5 linked regions of the Homo sapiens genome follow. The protein of the gene in region 3 purifies or fractionates together with the protein of the main gene of each other region. This does not show direct contact. Each region holds a gene or a part of one and is shown on either strand. Other genes may lie near its edges.

Region 1 (3,519 bases), on a different chromosome or scaffold from region 3:
TTTCAATCCGGCACAGCTGTCAGAACAGGAATGTCCAAACTGCTCTAGCTGAAGACAGACCAAAAAAATTAGCAGAATGGAATGGTCTTTTGTAACTGATAGATATCTTGGTTCACTAAAGTAGTAGTACTGCAAACACTAAGAAAAATGGGGAACCAAGAGACCTATGCTTCCCAAGAACCATACACATATTTTGTTTGTTTGTTTTGAGACAGAGTCTCACACTGTCGCCTAGGCTGGAGTGCAGTGGCACAATATTGGCTCACTGCAACCTCTGCCTGCCAGGTTCAAGCAATTCTCCTGCCTCAGCCTCCCAAGTAGCTGGGATTACAGGTGTGTGCCACCATGCCTGGCTAAATTTTGTATTTTCAGTAGAGACAGGGTGACACCATGTTAGCCAAGCTGGTCTCAAACTCCTGACCTCAAGTGATCGGCCCGCCTCAGCCTCCCTATGTGCTGGGATTACAGGCGTGAGCCACCGCGCCCAGCCCCAGGTACCATACACATTTAAAAAACCATATTTTGATTTGGAGATACCCTTGTTTTGAGACACGGCCCTACTCATTCAATTCTGGCAAACCTATACCAAATAACTTTGCCCCAGCTTCGTAGTTTCAACTTCCATGCCTGTACAACAGTCCTTCAGAAGCCCAGAGCTTTAGAAAACCTTAGAGTCAGGGACTCCTATACAGAGGAAGGTCATTTGTCCAAACTTCTGCTTATTATAAGTATAAGCATGTCTCAGGGATACCTGGCAGAAAGTCACCCCTCCTCTATTTCAATACTACCAGTGATGGGGACACCACCTCAATATACGAACTACATTTGCCAGCAACTGGCTCCATTTTCCTAACATTCTAGTCCTTTGAAAAGTTTTTCCTTGTACTGAACTGAAATGGGCTTCCTAACTTTCAACTTCCTATGCTATCACTCCCCAACTCAGTCTCACCAGATAACCTCATCTCCAGCTTCACAGAGAAAACAGAGGAATTTCTTGAGCTACCTGCTTCCTCTCCCCACCACAAATTTATCTGCATAAGCCCCTATCTGTAACTCCTCTCCCTCCAGACATGAGGGCAGGGATGTCCCTCCTCCAGACTAAGACAATCCTGTGTTCAGTCTTTTTAGGGACCTTTGTTCCTTCACTGTTTGTTAAGGAAGCCACTCTTCTAGGACAGACAACACATCAGGAGTGAGGTGGCTATATGGTAATAGCCATCAAAAGATGGCCCTATAGAATACAAGCTCCATGAAGGCGGGGATTTCAGTGCGTCTTGTTCACACACTATCCCCAGGGCTGAGAACAGAGCCCGACACATTGGTGCTCAATAAGTACTTGTTGAGTTAATGAATGAATGAAGTCACACTTCAAACCACCAGTTTTTTCCCTCTCCACTGGCCCTTTCACTTCAGCATAAAAATACGCTCAAGGCACTCCCATTCTATAACTAAAACCATAAAAAACCTCCTTTGGTCCTACCAGTCTCCACCAGCTACCAGCCTTGCTCCCCTTCAGAGGAAGAATCCAGGAAGAGCAGTCAACCACCGTTTGCTTCTATACTTCATTTTAAGTTTACTACTTAACCCACAAAATTTTAAAAATTTTTTTTATTTTTATTTTTTGAGACAGGGTCTTGCTGTCACCCAGGTTGGAGTGCAGTGGTAAGGATCTCAGCTCACCGCAACCTCCACCTCCCAGGTTCAAGAGATTCTCCTGCCTCAGACTCCTGAGTGGCTGGGACTACAGGCACGCACCACCACGTCTGGCTAACTTGTGTATTTTTTTGGTAGAGACAGGGTTTCACTACGTTGGCCAGACTGGTCTCGAACTCCTGACCTCAAACAATCCGCCTGCCTCGGCCTCCCAAAGTGCTGGGATTACAGGCGTGAGCCACCCCACCTGGCCGCCCACACCTTCCAAGCCCACCATGCCACTGAAACGACTCCCCAAACTCAAAAGGCAATTTCCATCCCTTAATTTTATCTAACTTCCCAAAGCATTTGATACTGGCAACTCCCTCCTTGAAAAGCCCCTGCTTTGGTCTTCATGCAGCCACGGCTCCTGGTTTTCCTTGCAATCCCTTTGGCTGCTTCTCCTCTGTTTCTTTCCCTTCCTGTCCTTTAAAGCAGTGGTAGCCAAACTTTTTAGATTTCAACCCTGTCAGCCCAAAATTGGAAAGTAGCCCTTCTTTCTTCTCTCTGTCCCTCTCATCCTCTCCATGTAAAGTATATACTTCTACTATAGTAATAGATTATGTATTTGATTTGTGCTATATTACAAAGCATACAAAAATAAAAGTTTTTAAAAGGATGAGATACCTGTGTAGTATTTTTCCCAATCTAATAATGAGAAAACATCAGATAAACCCAAATTGAGGGACAGTCTACAAAATACCTGACCATTATTATTCAAAAAGAGATAAGATAAAAATAGGCCAGGCATGATGGCTCACACCTGTAATCCCAGCACTTTGGGAGGCCAAGACAGGCGGATCACTTGAGGCCAAGAGTTCAAGACCAGCCTGGCCATAATGGCGAAACCTCATCTCTACTAAAAATACAAAAATGAGGCCAGGTGTGGTGGCTCATGCCTGTAATCCCAGCACTTTCAGAGGCTGAGGCAGGCAGATCATTTGAGGTCAGGAGTTTGAGACCAGTCTGGTGAACATAGTGAAACCCCGTCTCTACCAAAAAAATACACAAGTTAGACAGATGTGGTGGTGCATGCCTGTAGTCCCAGCTACTCAAGAGGCAGAGCACCTGAGGTTGGGAGTTCAAGACCAGCCTGACCAACATGGAGAAACCCCGTCTCCACTAAAAAAATACAAAATTAGCCAGGCATGGTGGTGCATGCCTGTAATCCTAGCTACTCGGGAGACTGAGGCAGGAGAATCACTTGAACCCGGAAGGTGGAGCTTGCAGTGAGCCAAGATCATGCCATTGCATTCCAGCCTGGGCAACAAGAGTAGTCCCAGCTACTTGGGAGGCTGAGGGACAAGAATCACTTGAACCCCAGAGGCGGAGGTTGTAGTGAGCCGAGATCGTGCCACTGCACTTCAGCCTGGGTGACAGAGCAAGACTCTGTCTCAAAAAAGGAAAAAAAAAAAAAAAAAGATAGAGGCTGGGTGCGATGGCTCACACCTGCGTGTAATCCCAGCACTTTGGGAGGCTGAGGAGGAGGATCACTTGAGCCCAAGAGTTTGAGACCTCATCTCTACAAAAACAAACAAAAAATTAGCTGGGTATGGTGGCATGCGCCTGTGGTCCCAGCTACTAGGGAGGCTGAGGTGGGAGAATCGCTTGAGCCTGGGTGGTCGAGGCTGCAGTGAGCTGTGATCACACCAGTGCACTCCAGCCTGGGTGACGGAGTGAGACCCTGTCTCAAAAACAAAAACAAAAAGGATATAAATGGAATTTCTAGTACATTCATCTGGCATCCAAATGGATCACCTAGCATACTCCACTTTGGAGATCTGAGGGCTCCATTCTTGACTCTTACTGCTTTCCTATTCTACATCT
Region 2 (3,519 bases), on a different chromosome or scaffold from region 3:
TTTTTCCAAAAAACTAAGGGAAGAGGGAGACATAAAATCATTATTATTGTTCTTAAATGTTAAAAATAAGAGTTTGAAGATTATATGTGTCTAAATTATTATAGCGTGACTAAATGCTTTCTCTGGTGTCACAGGTAGTTAAAATTAAAAAAAACAAGAGTTTGGATATTAGGAATAAGAAATACAAAGAATTAGAAGAGATCATAAAACATATTTACTGTGGGCCTATTTTATACAGGCACCGTTTAGTATTTCCTGGTATTTTTTCTCACTTATTTTTTTATTTTTTAGAGACATGGTCTCACTCTGTCACAGGCTGGAATGCAGTGGCATGATCATAGCTCACTGCAGCCTCAAACTGCTGGAACCAACAATTCTCCCAGTTCAGCCTCCCAGGTAGATGGAACCACAGGTGTACATCATCATGTCTGGCCAGTTTTTTAAATTTTTTGTGGAATCGGGGGTCTTGCTATGTTGCCAGGCTAGTCTTGAACTCTTCAGTCTCTCAAAGTGCTGGGATTAAAGGTGTGAGCCACTGCACCAAGCCGTCATTTAATTTTTAGAATTAAACTATTACAGGTTATTTTTCATGAGAGAAGGAGGAAAAAACTAAGGATACAATACACAAATGACATCTTCAAACTACAAGAAGGCCAAATGATATTTCTATTAACCAAGATTTCATGACAGTAGACCAAAGAATAATGGGGAAGTAACGTACTAAAATCCTATTGTCAAACTCACAAGAATTGGAATTTTATCAGTCATTATTACAGTATCTGCCCTGGCAGTGGTGATGACACTTTAACAATGTTAACTTTAATTTTTTTCCTTTAATTTAGAAGTTACTTTTCATTTTATGTTTAAGTAAGCATATGCTGTTAATAGGTATATGTTAGAACATATTTGAGAGTCATTAAAACAAAATAAACTAATTTAACATAGGATTAGCTTTTCATGGTAAGGAACAGATTAAGAATTCAAACCTGGATCTGTGTAAATCCATTTCTCTGATTCCCAATTGATACCTAAGATGGGGTTTCACAGAACCAGAATGGGTTTCCATCCTCTTTCAAAATATGTGGAGAATATGAGAGATTTACACATACACTGAAGAAAAAGATGGCCGGCAGATAAACCCAAAGGGTATTACAAAGATATTCAATATACTAAAAATAAAAGTTAAAACCATAAAAGCCCTTGAGCAATAAGCTTACATATATCTTCTCTGTCTCATTAAAATCAAGAGAAAACCACAAAGGCAAACCACAGAAATCCACACATTATCAGAGGAGCAAAAGGTCATTATTTGTGTAACAATTTGAAACAAATAGTTTGAAGTCCTTAAATTATAATATCAACATCACATTTTCCATCATAATCTACAAATATATGGTTCTTCATTATCCTTAACCCTAGTTTCTTCACTCCAGGTTTCCCCAGATCACATAATAAGGCAATAGTGAGAAAATGGTAGCTTTTTCAGAGAGCTTTCAGTGGCAACGAAGAGTTTTGCCAAATGCCTTAGGAAGTTAAAAAGAATATTCCAAATTTAGGCTCTTCAGGCTCTAGGCTCATAAGGTTATTACATAAATGGGGTATGAACTCCTAATATTATGTGTAAACAATTATTTACCTTAGAAACTTTTACATAGCACACAAAAAATATGAACTCTTTATTTACTTATGTTACCATTCATCAATTAATGTTCAGAGTATCTGGCACACTGCAAGCACTCAGTAAGTATTTCTGAATAAATATGTGAATAAAGGAATAATAAAAAATGCATGAAAAACTAATGAAGTAGATTATGGTGTTAAATGACTATGTATTTATTGCAGGCTTCAAGGAAAGGCGAACATATTTAAAGACAGACTCAGACAGTGTATGCAAATACTAACAGCCTCCAACATGTACAAAAAATACATACAGAAAGTTGCCCTGGTAAGACTTGTGGGGCATCTTTTAGAGCTCCAGGACTTGTTGGAGAAATAACAGAAATGGAAGGCCTTTCCATCTTCTGAGATTCAAAGGAACTTGAACCTAAAATGAGAAAAAAAAGTAAGTAATATTTGTAAGTGTAGGAAATATTTTTAATAAAATGTTAAATGCATCCTTTATTTGTATAAAACCATAATTACTATCACTGATAACAGAACCTACTTTTAATGGGATAGATTGTCTTTAGTTGTCTATTTAAAAAATATTAAGAATGATATAACGAAGTATTATGCTTATTTCAACTGGAAAGAATTGATCTACATTTCTGGAGTGCATGGTATTGCACAGGCTCTTGCATGACTTCACATATGGGTAAAGGTCTGCTTCAGAGATAAGGAAGATAGTGCCTGTTAACACTAATTATCTTGGCTAATGGATCATCTATTATAAACTGTCCTTACTGAGAAATTAAAATGAATGCATACATAATATAATTTATAAGCCACATCTAAGCCAAGACTTTGCCACTGTTTTAAAATCAGATATACCATCTATCTTAGGTTTTTTTTTTTTTTTTTTTTGAGACAGAGTTTCGCTCTTGTTGCCCAGGCTGGAGTGCAATGGCATGATCTTGGCTCACCGCAACCTCCACCTCGCAGGTTCAAGCAATTCTTCTGCCTCAGCCTCCTGAGTAGCTGGGATTACAGGCATGCACCAACACGTCCGGCTAATTTTGTATTTTTAGTAGAGACGGGGTTTCTCCATGTTGAGGCTGGTCTCGAACTCCTGACCTCAGGTGATCCGCCCACCTCGGCCTCCCCATCTATCTTAGTTTTGATCTTATAAATGAGTATCCTGAACCTCTGAAAATGCTGCTTCAAGTAATTCACCACTAGTGATTTGTTTCAACTTCACATGGAGGAGGCTGGGTCTCCTCTCAGCCACTTGGTGGAGTTCTTCACTGTTCCAAGTATACCCTGACACAGAGAGCAATACAGAGTGTTTATAGAAGGCTATTGATCCAGCAAGTACAACCTTGAACTCACCACCATTCAAACTTAGCCAATGCTTCATTGAGAAATACTGTTTATGAAGCATTGCCTGAGTATGTGCAATCCGCACATTTTTTTCTATAAGTACAAATTAATTCTCATGTCATCCTTTTGTGCCCTCCGAAAACATTTAGTGATAAAAAACAGCTATATAAAATTGTTACTATGTGTCTTTTCCCAGGTATATTTAAAATACATTTTCCTTAAGTCTCAGAACAGGAACACTGTTATTTCTAATAATGCTTGTTTGTAATATTATGGCAATCAGTGTATTTTTTAATCATATCAATAATATAAATTATGCAATTAGTCCCACTTCCCTCTTTGTATTGGTCACCAGAAAGCTCAAAGCCAAAACTGGGTCCACCTCTAGCAGAACATGATGGTATGCATTTTATATGATAACCTAGTGTCTGTTTCCTTGTTTATCCTACTTTCATATTTTCTTCTCCCTTCTAATCACTATCACTGGTTTTCCCCTAAATCACCTTTTATTTTCTATTTCTTTAACTTGGGTTCTGTAAG
Region 3 (3,519 bases):
ACTTTCATCTTTTTTTTATTTTTCTCTTTATCAAAATACAACTTGACTCTGAAGGCCTTTTATAAAGTAGCTCAGTGTTTTCTAAATTGTGTTTTAGAATGCTGGTTCCAAAAAATATTAATAGGGATTTCCTGGGGGAAAGAGGCACAACCAAACTCCAGGATATGCTGGTTTATGCAGTTTGGAACTTCTCTGGTACTTCAAGGTGCTAATAAGGGCTGAATCTAAATGTGGCTAGTGTTTTGTCCTCTCATTTCACAAAACTCCCTTTAGTGGAACATCTCACCTTGTTAACTTTGTGTACCAGGATCACTGCTTTGCACAACTCCAGGGGATGCTGTTCACATACAACACAAAATGAATTGTGTTTCCTGGAGTTGAGAGCTGTGTTGCATACTGTAGTATTGCTGACTGTCCACTGTGTGACGGTCTTAGAGTCTGGTGGTCCCTCATCCTTTTGTTGTGAATGTGTATGTGTTTTTCCTCTCACCTGATAGGACCCTTAGGGGCCAGATGCTGTGCTTGATGCCTATAAGTCCTAGCACTTTGGGAGGCTGAGGCAGGAGGTTCGCTTGAGGCCAGGAGTTCGAGGCTGCCTGGGTGACACAGCAAAGAACCTGTTTACCAAACAAAAAAACCAAATTAACTGCCACATTGAAATTCAGAAGTGGAAAAGTCCTGCCTGTAGAGAAGCTAAATTCTACTGTCCTAGTAACATTCTGTGAAATGTATGTAGCTATCTTCCAGAAATAAAACATTGCCTTATGAACCCATCTGAGTAAGGTTAAAATTCCAAAGGTAAAAAGGTTTTAAAAATCTCCCAGAAAAATTTCCTTAACCTTCTCTGCTTTACTTTAACAGAAGCTACACAATGTCTAAATCCTAAACCAATATGCCAAAAAAAATAGTACCTGAACATTTGCTGGATAAAGTTCTATATATCGTGATATAGAACCCTATATCTTATCTCAGTTCTTTTATGTTATCTCCAAATGAATTACTAAGACAAAGGGATAATAAATGGGAAGTGTACAACCCGGAGGACTTCAGACCAGAAAATCAAAGAGAGATGATGGGAAAGGGTGGAGTAATGCTGAGTTTTGAAGAATGGGCACATTTAGACAGACCAAAGACTGAGCATCATATCATTGCTGCCGTTCCATGAACTGAGAGCAAACTGTTAGATCATGACCTGCTACAGAATCACTAGGCATCAGGAAGAAGAGTAGGTATATGGTCTGTATTAGAGTATAGCAATGGATTATTCTTCCAGCTGCCAAGAAGTCAAGAAGGAAAGCCTGTATTTGACTTTATCATTTCTATTGAATGTCTGAGTGATACATAGAGTAGTAATTTTAGACATTTAAGTAACTAAAGATTTATATAGCTTTAGTATGTAAGCTGTTATATTTAAAAATGCTTGAAAAAATAAGAGTTGTTCTCCAGAAATTATTCATTTTCCTATGATTAGCACAGCTGAGACCTTACAGGTGCACTGCTATTGAGTATTCTCCCAACCTTTTAAATTTTATAGGTCTAATTGTTGGTAAGGTATTGTGGAAGGAGTTCTAAGACTTGCTCCTGCTTTAATTGACGTTGCAATAATAATCATAATAAAATTGTTGGTCAAAGAGTAGCACAGGAGTGGTTTTGGTAGTGAAGAAAATAAAAAGAAATCTGAAGGTAGAGATGAATGGAATCAGCAAAAGTGAAATTGGTTAGATTAGTAAGTTGTTTTTCTACTGGGACACTCATGGATGATACTGACATATACTCCATTCTCCCTTGCTAATATCTAGATTTTTTTAGTACCTCTAATACTAAGAGATTTTTAATTTCTTTGCTATACTTCTGTCCTTTTCTTCTCTATTCATGCTCAAAAGAAAGTAAGTGCTATAACTACTCTTTTTTGTTTGCTTAAAAAATGACTCATGAACTTAAGGTACTTAAGTGTGGACACTCCTGACAACTAATACCATAGCGGAGAACTACTGAGTTAAAGGGTACCAGTGCAAATAGAGGGCTGAAAACAAGGAAGGTCAGTCAGTGAATGGGAAAGAAATATGACAAAGCCTAGGAAAGGGAGCTCCTCTAGCATCAAACTGTCTGCATGTCGAGTCTCAGAAAAACAAGGATTCGTCAGTCAACCCCTTTCTGCATGCACAGTGGATTTAGGGTAAAGTTTATGTTACCCTGTCTTTGGCCGAGCGCAGTGGCTCCTGCCTGTAATCCCAGCCCTTTGGGAGACTGAAGCAGGAGGATTGCTTGACCACAGGAGTCTGAGACCAGCCTGGGCAACATGACAAAACCTCATCTCTACTAAAAAAAAAAAAAAAAAAAAATTTAGCCAGGCATGGTGTCGTGTACCTGTAGTCCTAGCTACTTGGGAGGCTGAGGTAGGAGGATCGCTTGATTCTAGGAGGTAGAGGTTGCAGTGAACTGAGATTGTGCCACAGCACTACAGCCTGGGCGACAGAGGGAGACCGTCTCTGTCTCAAAAAATAGATGACCCTGCCTTTGAGCTTAAGCACTACTGTTTTTATGTACATAATTTAATGCTGGAACTTGATCACCTCCGGCCCTCCTGCTGACAGCATTTCTTTTGCTAGAAATACCCACCTTTCTCAGAGCCTGTGTCTCCTTTGGTTTTGGTTTTTACTCCATGATATGTTAAGGACTCACCAGATTTAAATGTGAAATTTATCTTCACCACTAAAAAGCCCACTTGTCTTGGATAAATCACTTGGTTTCTTTAACTCCTCAAAAAGTACAAAGTCAGGGGGTTTTGATTTTTCTCTCTTGAAAATTTGGCTTTTAACAAAATTTGTATAGCAAAAACAGGTTACCCGCTCCCCCCAAACTTTCAACCATTTATTTCTTTATTCTGTTAGGTTTGCCTTCCAATTTTGTCTTTTAACTACTTTGTCATCATTTTGACGTTTCGTCTGTGATACACCGTGTTTGATTTATGAAGATAAATACATTTATTGAAAAGCTAAATTATCTAAGATTTCAGTTAAACAAGTGGCATATTACTAGCATTTAACTCTGCCTCTTGCCAAACATATACTAAAATGAGAATAAGGGAATTCTTTTTTAAAAAAGCCATAAATCCACAAGGGAGAAGAGAAACCCACACCAAAATTTTAGAAGGCGTTGACTTAGTAGACTTAAAAAGCTGATCTCTAAGTAATAGAAAAGCCCAGAAACAAGTCAGTTTATAGAATTCCCTGAGAGCTCAAAGCTGGGAAAACATGGGACCCATGGTGAAGAGGGGACAGGGGGGCAAAACGGGAGAACTGGTTGAAATTTTAGGAATTTGATACCCAGATATCTTTCCCTCTGTCTGTACTCTGTGATCTCTTTTCCTTCATCCTTGCAGAAGGCTGGAAGCTTGCTTTCTGGAGAAGGCTATGCACACTGGGAATACAGTTGAAAACCAGGGTACCACACTCAAAACCGAGTGTTTACCTATTTATGTTAAGATCACCAGTCTTCTTCCCTCACCCAGCTTTCAGA
Region 4 (3,519 bases), on a different chromosome or scaffold from region 3:
CTCTGGATCTACCCAGTTCCCCTGTGAATCAGCTCAGTGGATCCTTAGGTCACACAGGATCCTCTTAGGCAGAGAATGCAGTGTGGCACCTAACCACTGGAGTCACGGGTGGTGTGCTTTTTTGTTTTGTTTTGTTTAAATAAAGACCAGGTTTCACCATGTTGGCCAGGCTGGTCTTAAACTCCTGAGCCCAAGTGATTTGCCTGCCTCGGCCTCCCAAAGTGCTGGGATTACAGGCATTAGCCTCTGTGCCTGGCTTCCATGGGTGTTTTTGGGGCTGCACCTTTGAGCGTGTCTTGCATGCCATGAATGTGTCAGCTGTCATCCAGAGCAAGTCAAACTGTTGGGCAGGAAGAATATTCATAAAAATAAGGTAGATCGTGTATTGTATGATGATGCCATCTATATGAAATACCCAGAACAGGCCAGGCGCAGTGGCTCATGCCTATAATGCCAGCACTTTTGGAGGCCTAGGTGGGCAGATCACTTGAGCCCAGGAGTTCGAGACCAGCCTAGGCAATGTGACAAGATTCCCCCATCTCTATTTGAAAAAAAAAAAAAAGAAAGAAAAAGAAATGCCCAGGACAGACAGATCTGTAGAGAGACAGTAGATTAGTGATCGCCATGGGGTAGAAGGAGGGAAGTGGAAATGACTCCTTAATGGTAATGGCCTTTGCTTTTTGGGTGGTGAAAATGTTCTGTAGCTAGATAGTGGTGGTGATTATACAACACTGAACATACTAAGTGTGACTAATGGTAAATTTTATGATAGGAGCTAAGTGGCCTGACGGGACACAATGGCTGAACTTTTGTCCCAGGTGTTTTATCAGCTGAGAACTATTAATAACAGTGTTTTACTCTGTGCCAGGTGCTGAGCTCAGCTCTACCCATGCATTTCCCTCACATCTACCTTTACCAAGGTTGGAGAGGACCAGGAGCTTGTCCAAGGCCTTACAACTAGTAGGAGGCCCTAAACTAACCCAGGATTGGAACCTGGGTTACCTGACTCCAGGGATGACTGGCCTGGTTTGCCCCGGACTGTCCCAGTTTTAGCATTGAAAGTCCCACATCCCAGAAACCCCTCAGTACAGAGCAAACTGGATGATTGGTCACTCTGATTCCTAAGCCCATACCAGGCTCCAGTTTGGGCTTCCCTGACACCCTCCTGATTGAATCACCTACCCGAAACCTGTTGTACCAAGAGCAATCACTTTGGAATCCCTGATTTAATAGCTCGGTATCTCAACCATGTAATATTAATGATAACACCATGCCTTCTGTCTGGATTAATTAACAATAATACGTCTGATTAAACTGGCTGATTTACTACGGCTGGTACAGGGTGGCGTGTGTGATGACGTGTAGATGGTCTCTGACCACGGGGCACAGCTCCTTAGGTAGATCGGGGGATATTCCCAGTGTGCACTTGGTGTTCGTTCTGGCTGGGGTGAGCTGTGTTGCCAGTGCCTTGACAAAAGCAGGATGGATTAGCCACTACCCTGTCGCACACCCTCACGTAAGGGATGTTCCTGGCCTGCGGGGTTTCGCCTAGGCAGAGGGTGAGGCCAGGAAGTCTGGGGAAGTTGCTTGTGTGGCTGGAGTTGTACATTTTACATCTGATCCTCATTCCCAGTTTTCATCTGTCACCCAGCTACACTGGTTTTGCTGTGTCAGAGTATCTCTTAATAGTTCTGACATTCACTGTGTAGGTGCTATTTCTCATGCAAAGAAATCCAGCTCTTGCCAGCAACTCCTTTAGTTACATGTCAAACAGATGCCAGTCTCTCCCTAAGTGCCTGTTTTCCTTCCAAGGGAGTGAATCAAGTGGTCTGGGAACCCAGGGTGTCAGCTTTTCAAGTCTGACAGAGCAGATTCAAATGTTTTGTATAAGGAATGACAGTCCTTCTAATGCCTCGAAGTTGTTTCTTTTTGGTTTTCCAGCTGAGCATCGAGCAGGCCCAGACGGTGGCGGAACAGGTGGAGATGAAGGCGAAGGTTGTGCAGTCGGAGGTCAAAGCCGTGACGGCGAGGCATAAGAAAGCCCTGGAGGAACGCGAGTGTGAGCTGCTGTGGAAGGTAACAGGGAGAGCTCCCCCACCCAGGCTGTGCCCACTCGGCTTCCATGAACCTCAGCAGCACTCTACGGGACTCTTTACAGATCCAGGAGCCAAGCTCTAAGTTTAAAACACTTCGTAATTTTCCAGAAAGCCTGTTAGCAGAAAGATGCAGGGGGTCCCTGGAACATTGTGGGTGCTGTCTGCAGTAAAACAACAAGAAGCCTTTTCAGAAGTACGTGGGTAACCAAGACTGGAAGCGGTCTCCAGTTTTATATTGCATTCACTCAAAAGGAGGCTAAAGAAGGGAGCATAGTCGAAACTGTTGTTAAGAAAGGCAGGCTGGTAGGAAACATCCCTATTTTTGGTGACCTGGCTGGTTGCACTTCCTGACCTCTTGTGGAAAACCAGTTTTCCTCTTCGGAGGGCAGTGAGTGTGTGTCCTTTCTTCCTGTTGGAGCAGGAAAGAGTGCCGAGCACACTAGTGTGCTGTTTAGATAAAAATCAGCTAGAAAGACTACTTGCCCCACCCAAGCCAGCATTCCAACTGTTCCTTTTCTGATTTTATGTCCCCACTCAGAAAGGAGGAGAGTTAGGTCTATGAAAGGGCCAGTACTCCATGCCAATTCTTTAACTATAATTACATTCTCTGAACACACGAAAAAGACTAGAGCTGATTTATAAGGGTATCCTTGTGGAGTGTGCCTGTTTCCATCTCCAAACAATATGATGATGGTGGGGATGGCACCTCAGTTTCTGCAAGTGAACTTTGCTAACTACTGGGCCCTACAATGTTCTGCAAGGTGTCCCTGGATTTTGCATTGCATTTTCCATTTAGTTAACTTCACAACTGGATGGATGCTTTCTGCCTCTTCTGACCTCTTAAGGAATATGGCTCAATTGCTTTCTGACAAGAGACTTTGGAGGTGTTAGTCCAAGATTTTTAATTCAGCATATTTTTTGAGCACCTTTGTGGGCATGACATCATTTTCAGACACTCAGATGTCCCCATGGGTCTGCCAGTGTTATGCCACCCACGAATGTTAATTATAACTGAGGGGCCCATTTCTTGCAACCTGAGAGCTTTGTAGTGAACTCTGCCACAAACTCGCTCTTCTGGATTTCCTGATGAAAAAGGCCTTTGTGTGTGGGGGTTTCTGCCGCTTTCACCTTAGTTACCCTCCCTCCTGTGAGGCTGACCCACTGTCCTCTCTAAAGGCAGTTCTGTTTCAGAAGAAATAGCAAGTTTTTACTCTTGGGAGAAGCCTATTTGAAAGAAGAGTCCATCCCTTCTTCATTGTAGTAAGCAGTTTCTGCTTGCCCAAAAATTCATCCTCAGAGCATTCCAAAATAAGCTTCCTTATTTTGGATACTTTTGCTATAGAACCTTGCTCCAAATCCTGTGGGGTCCCTCTCTCTTTGACTAATTACTGACTTTTTTTTTTTTTTTTTTTTTCTGTTCCTT
Region 5 (3,519 bases), on a different chromosome or scaffold from region 3:
CAACGAAGGCAAATACTTTTTTGAAGGCCATAAAATAGTAACATCAGGAAGAAGATGCTTCTGGTTACTATCACATGAATAAATCCAGATCTGTATCATCACTAAAGAAAATACTAAATGGCTAAAGACCAGAATCATTTATAAATAAATGCAATTCATTTCTAACTTGGGCTGTACCCCCAACATCTGTTTCTAAATTAGTTTTCCTGATAACAGATTTTATTTTCCCATAATAATTCATGTCAACTGTCGTAGACAGGTCCCCAGCTGCCTCTTCATCATCATGAGGTGGGGAGGCTGTGTGTTTAGGCTGCAGCTTAACACAGCTTACATAGGAGCCCCAAGACCTGCCTGGAGTGCCGAGCAGGCTCAAGTGTAGAGCAGGAGTAAGTAAGCAGCACACTCCTCACTGCCACTTCTTTACTCCCCATTCCTCTGGAGTAGTTCTGTGAAGCTTCCCCTGCTGAGGGACAGGTAGGTAGGGGTACCAAGGCAGCAGGAAGGAAGGTTTTATTTTCTTCACCTCCCTCCATGGGACACTGCAGTGAGACGTAAAGCAGAAAACAGGGACAGAGAGAAAGATCAGGGGAAGCCTTACAAGGAAAAGAGTCAGCTAATGGCTGCAATGAGAAGGAGGCCATTCCCACAAGTAACAGATAGGAAGAGTTCTCGGAACATTTTTACAAAGAAGGTCCATACAGGTAGGAAATGTCTATGGACATCAAATATTTTAAGTAAAAGTAGTATGAATTCCACGTTCTTACCTGTTTGCATATGCACAAATGTTATCTACTAGTGGAAGATTCTTCAAAGCTGCCTCTACTTTCCCAAGAGAAACATATTCCCCTGCCTGTAGTTTTACAAGGTCCTTTTTACGATCTGCAAAACAAAGAAAGGTGGAGAGGGGAAAACAATGAGTAATAATATTAGTAACATTTAATACATATATAAATACTGGCCATTCTCTAAGTAATTTGCTATCAAATTATTTAAAACTTTGCAAAATTAAGCATTAATGGTTATGCTGAAATTAAAAGCACATATTAAAATTAGGCCCTAATTTTTGTACTGCTAAATACATGCTTTTTTTTTTTTTTTTTTTTTTTTGAGACGGAGTCTCGCTCTGTCGCCCAGGCTGGACTGCGGACTGCAGTGGCGCAATCTCGGCTCACTGCAAGCTCCGCTTCCCGGGTTCACGCCATTCTCCTGCCTCAGCCTCCCGAGTAGCTGGGACTACAGGCGCCCGCCACCGCGCCCGGCTAATTTTTTGTATTTTTAGTAGAGACGGGGTTTCACCTTGTTAGCCAGGATGGTCTCGATCTCCTGACCTCATGATCCACCCGCCTCGGCCTCCCAAAGTGCTGGGATTACAGGCGTGAGCCACCGCGCCCGGCCCATGCTTTTAAAAGAAAAACAGGCCAGGTCCAGTGGCTCATGTCTGTAATCCCAGCACTTCGGGAGGCCGAGGCGGGCACATCACTTGAGGTCAGGAGTTCGAGACCAGCCTGGCCAACATGGTGAAACCCCGACTCTACTAAAAATACGAAAACTAGCTGGGCGTGGTGGTGCACACCTGTAATCCCAGCTACTCAGGAGGCTGAGGCAGGAGAATTGCGTGAACCCAGGAGACAGAGGTTGCAGTGAGCTGAGATGGTGCCACTGCACTCCAGCCTGGGCGACAGAGCAAGACTACATCTCAAAAAAAGAAAGAAAGAAAAACAATTAACTTCTACTTAATGGACTCCATTAGCAGGGCTTCAAGTATGTTCTTCTGAACAGGTTTATTTCTGGTATCCATTAGTACCAGGCAGGTGAAGAAGATATTCAATGCCATCTGCAAGTTCACAACCTATCTGGAGACATGCATAATGCAAAAACGTATTACTTCAATACATTGGTACTACAATGGTAGCGCTAAGTGTTAAGACTCTCCAACCTGGGGATTTGGAAAAAATTCTTGCAAGTGAGGCCTGAGCTGAGGGTTGGATGGTTGGTTGGTTTTGAGATTTTGAGACAGGGTCTCACTCTGTTGCTCATACTGGAGTGCAGTGGCACAATCACGGCCTCCTGGGCTCCTGTGATACTCCCACCTCAGCCTCCCGAGTAGCTGGGATTACAGGCCTGAGTCACTATGCTCAGCTGCTTGAGCCGAGTCCTAAGGGAAAAGTGAGAGGTCAGGTGCAACAACACTGGCAAAAGCCAGAAGAACATCAGCTCTAATTTCAGCTGCATCAAGGAGGAGGAGGAAAACAACTGACGATGAAGGTGAAGAGGGGAACAATGTTAACAGGGGCACCCTGAACTGAGCTTCTAGGAGACATTAAATGGTTGTGGCCAGTAAGATCCATGTTTAGTAATTACATGGTGGCAGTGAGAGGGTGTGTTTAAGGGGGTAAACATGGCAACAGAGAAATTATTGGGAGAGGGTGGCAGAAGGTACAGGCCTGACCAATGATCAAGTAAGAGAGACAAAGAGAGAAGAGTATGATTTTGAGACATAGCTCATAAAATAAACTAGTGGGATATAAAATAGGCATGGGAAGCTGACTGAAGAGAACAGTCTTGAGTCTCCTCCCAGGTTTCTAGTTAGCAAGACAGGGATAGAAATGCCATTAACTTTTTTTTTTTTTTTAGACAGAGTCTTGCTCTGTTGCCCAGGTTGGAGTGCAGTGTCGCGATCTCCGCTTGCTGCAAGCTCTGCCTCCCGGGTTCATGCCATTCTCCTGCCTCGGCCTCCCAAGTAGCTGGGATTACAGGTGCCCGACAAAGACACCACACACGGCTAACTGAAATGCCATTAACTTTTAAAAAAAAAGAACCTAAAAGGAGAAGCAGAATAAGGTATTTTTCAACCCATATGAGTCATAGTACTTGAGCTGCCTGGCTTTCCTCTATTCTCCTGGGCAGGGCAAGGCAAGGGTGCAGTTCAGACTGTGAGAGCTCCATCCACTAATCTCTAGATGTCAGAAACACAGGCAGGAAACAATGACTGAAGGTTATCTAAGAGTAATTTAAAATACCACTGCTGCTGAACCATCTTTGAGAACTCATAACATGTCAGGCCTCATAAATTCCACAGTCCGTAATATTTTATATTCCAGGAGTGATGCAACAACCCAAACTAAGATTACATAAAGATTTATATTATTCAGCGCCTCCTCTAAATATATTGTGCTTCTTGTGTAAACTATTTCAGAAACATTCATTTTCAAAAAAATATTAGATGACTTACCAATAATCTTTAAGCATCCATCGGGTTCAAACTCTCCAATATCCCCAGTACAGAGCCACCTTTGTCCATTTTCATCTTCAAAGAAATCAGCTTTTGTTTTTGCTTCATTTTTGTAGTACCCCATTGTCACACTTTGGCCCCCAATAAGAATTTCACCCCTGGGGTGTGGCTTATCAGTATTAAAGTATCCACCTAATAAAATAATAATTGAGTTAATAGTTGAGTTAAATACAACACATGAAAATTTGAAACTACTAGTTTCTAAACAGTCATCTTATTTTAATCCA

Evidence for each region.
Region 1: the proteins of ATP2B1 (region 3) and ATP6AP2 purify together in Homo sapiens (co-immunoprecipitation; one large-scale study listed by IntAct). This does not show direct contact.
Region 2: the proteins of ATP2B1 (region 3) and RIMS1 purify together in Homo sapiens (co-immunoprecipitation; one large-scale study listed by IntAct). This does not show direct contact.
Region 4: the proteins of ATP2B1 (region 3) and TRIM71 purify together in Homo sapiens (affinity purification with mass spectrometry; one large-scale study listed by BioGRID and IntAct). This does not show direct contact.
Region 5: the proteins of ATP2B1 (region 3) and ACSL3 purify together in Homo sapiens (affinity purification with mass spectrometry; one large-scale study listed by BioGRID and IntAct). This does not show direct contact.

The regions. Positions count from the first base shown.
Region 1 is NC_000023.11:40,583,959-40,587,477, reverse strand, and holds part of ATP6AP2 (renin receptor precursor), read right to left. Parts: intron 1-3,519. UniProt on the Homo sapiens protein: Multifunctional protein which functions as a renin, prorenin cellular receptor and is involved in the assembly of the lysosomal proton-transporting V-type ATPase (V-ATPase) and the acidification of the endo-lysosomal system.
Region 2 is NC_000006.12:72,246,540-72,250,058, reverse strand, and holds part of RIMS1 (regulating synaptic membrane exocytosis protein 1), read right to left. Parts: intron 2,045-3,519; coding exon 1,932-2,044; intron 1-1,931. UniProt on the Homo sapiens protein: Rab effector involved in exocytosis. May act as scaffold protein that regulates neurotransmitter release at the active zone.
Region 3 is NC_000012.12:89,698,836-89,702,354, reverse strand, and holds part of ATP2B1 (plasma membrane calcium-transporting ATPase 1), read left to right. Parts: intron 1-3,519. UniProt on the Homo sapiens protein: Catalyzes the hydrolysis of ATP coupled with the transport of calcium from the cytoplasm to the extracellular space thereby maintaining intracellular calcium homeostasis.
Region 4 is NC_000003.12:32,883,993-32,887,511, forward strand, and holds part of TRIM71 (E3 ubiquitin-protein ligase TRIM71), read left to right. Parts: intron 1-1,941; coding exon 1,942-2,076; intron 2,077-3,519.
Region 5 is NC_000002.12:222,930,526-222,934,044, reverse strand, and holds part of ACSL3 (fatty acid CoA ligase Acsl3), read right to left. Parts: intron 3,425-3,519; coding exon 3,233-3,424; intron 880-3,232; coding exon 765-879; intron 1-764. UniProt on the Homo sapiens protein: Acyl-CoA synthetases (ACSL) activates long-chain fatty acids for both synthesis of cellular lipids, and degradation via beta-oxidation.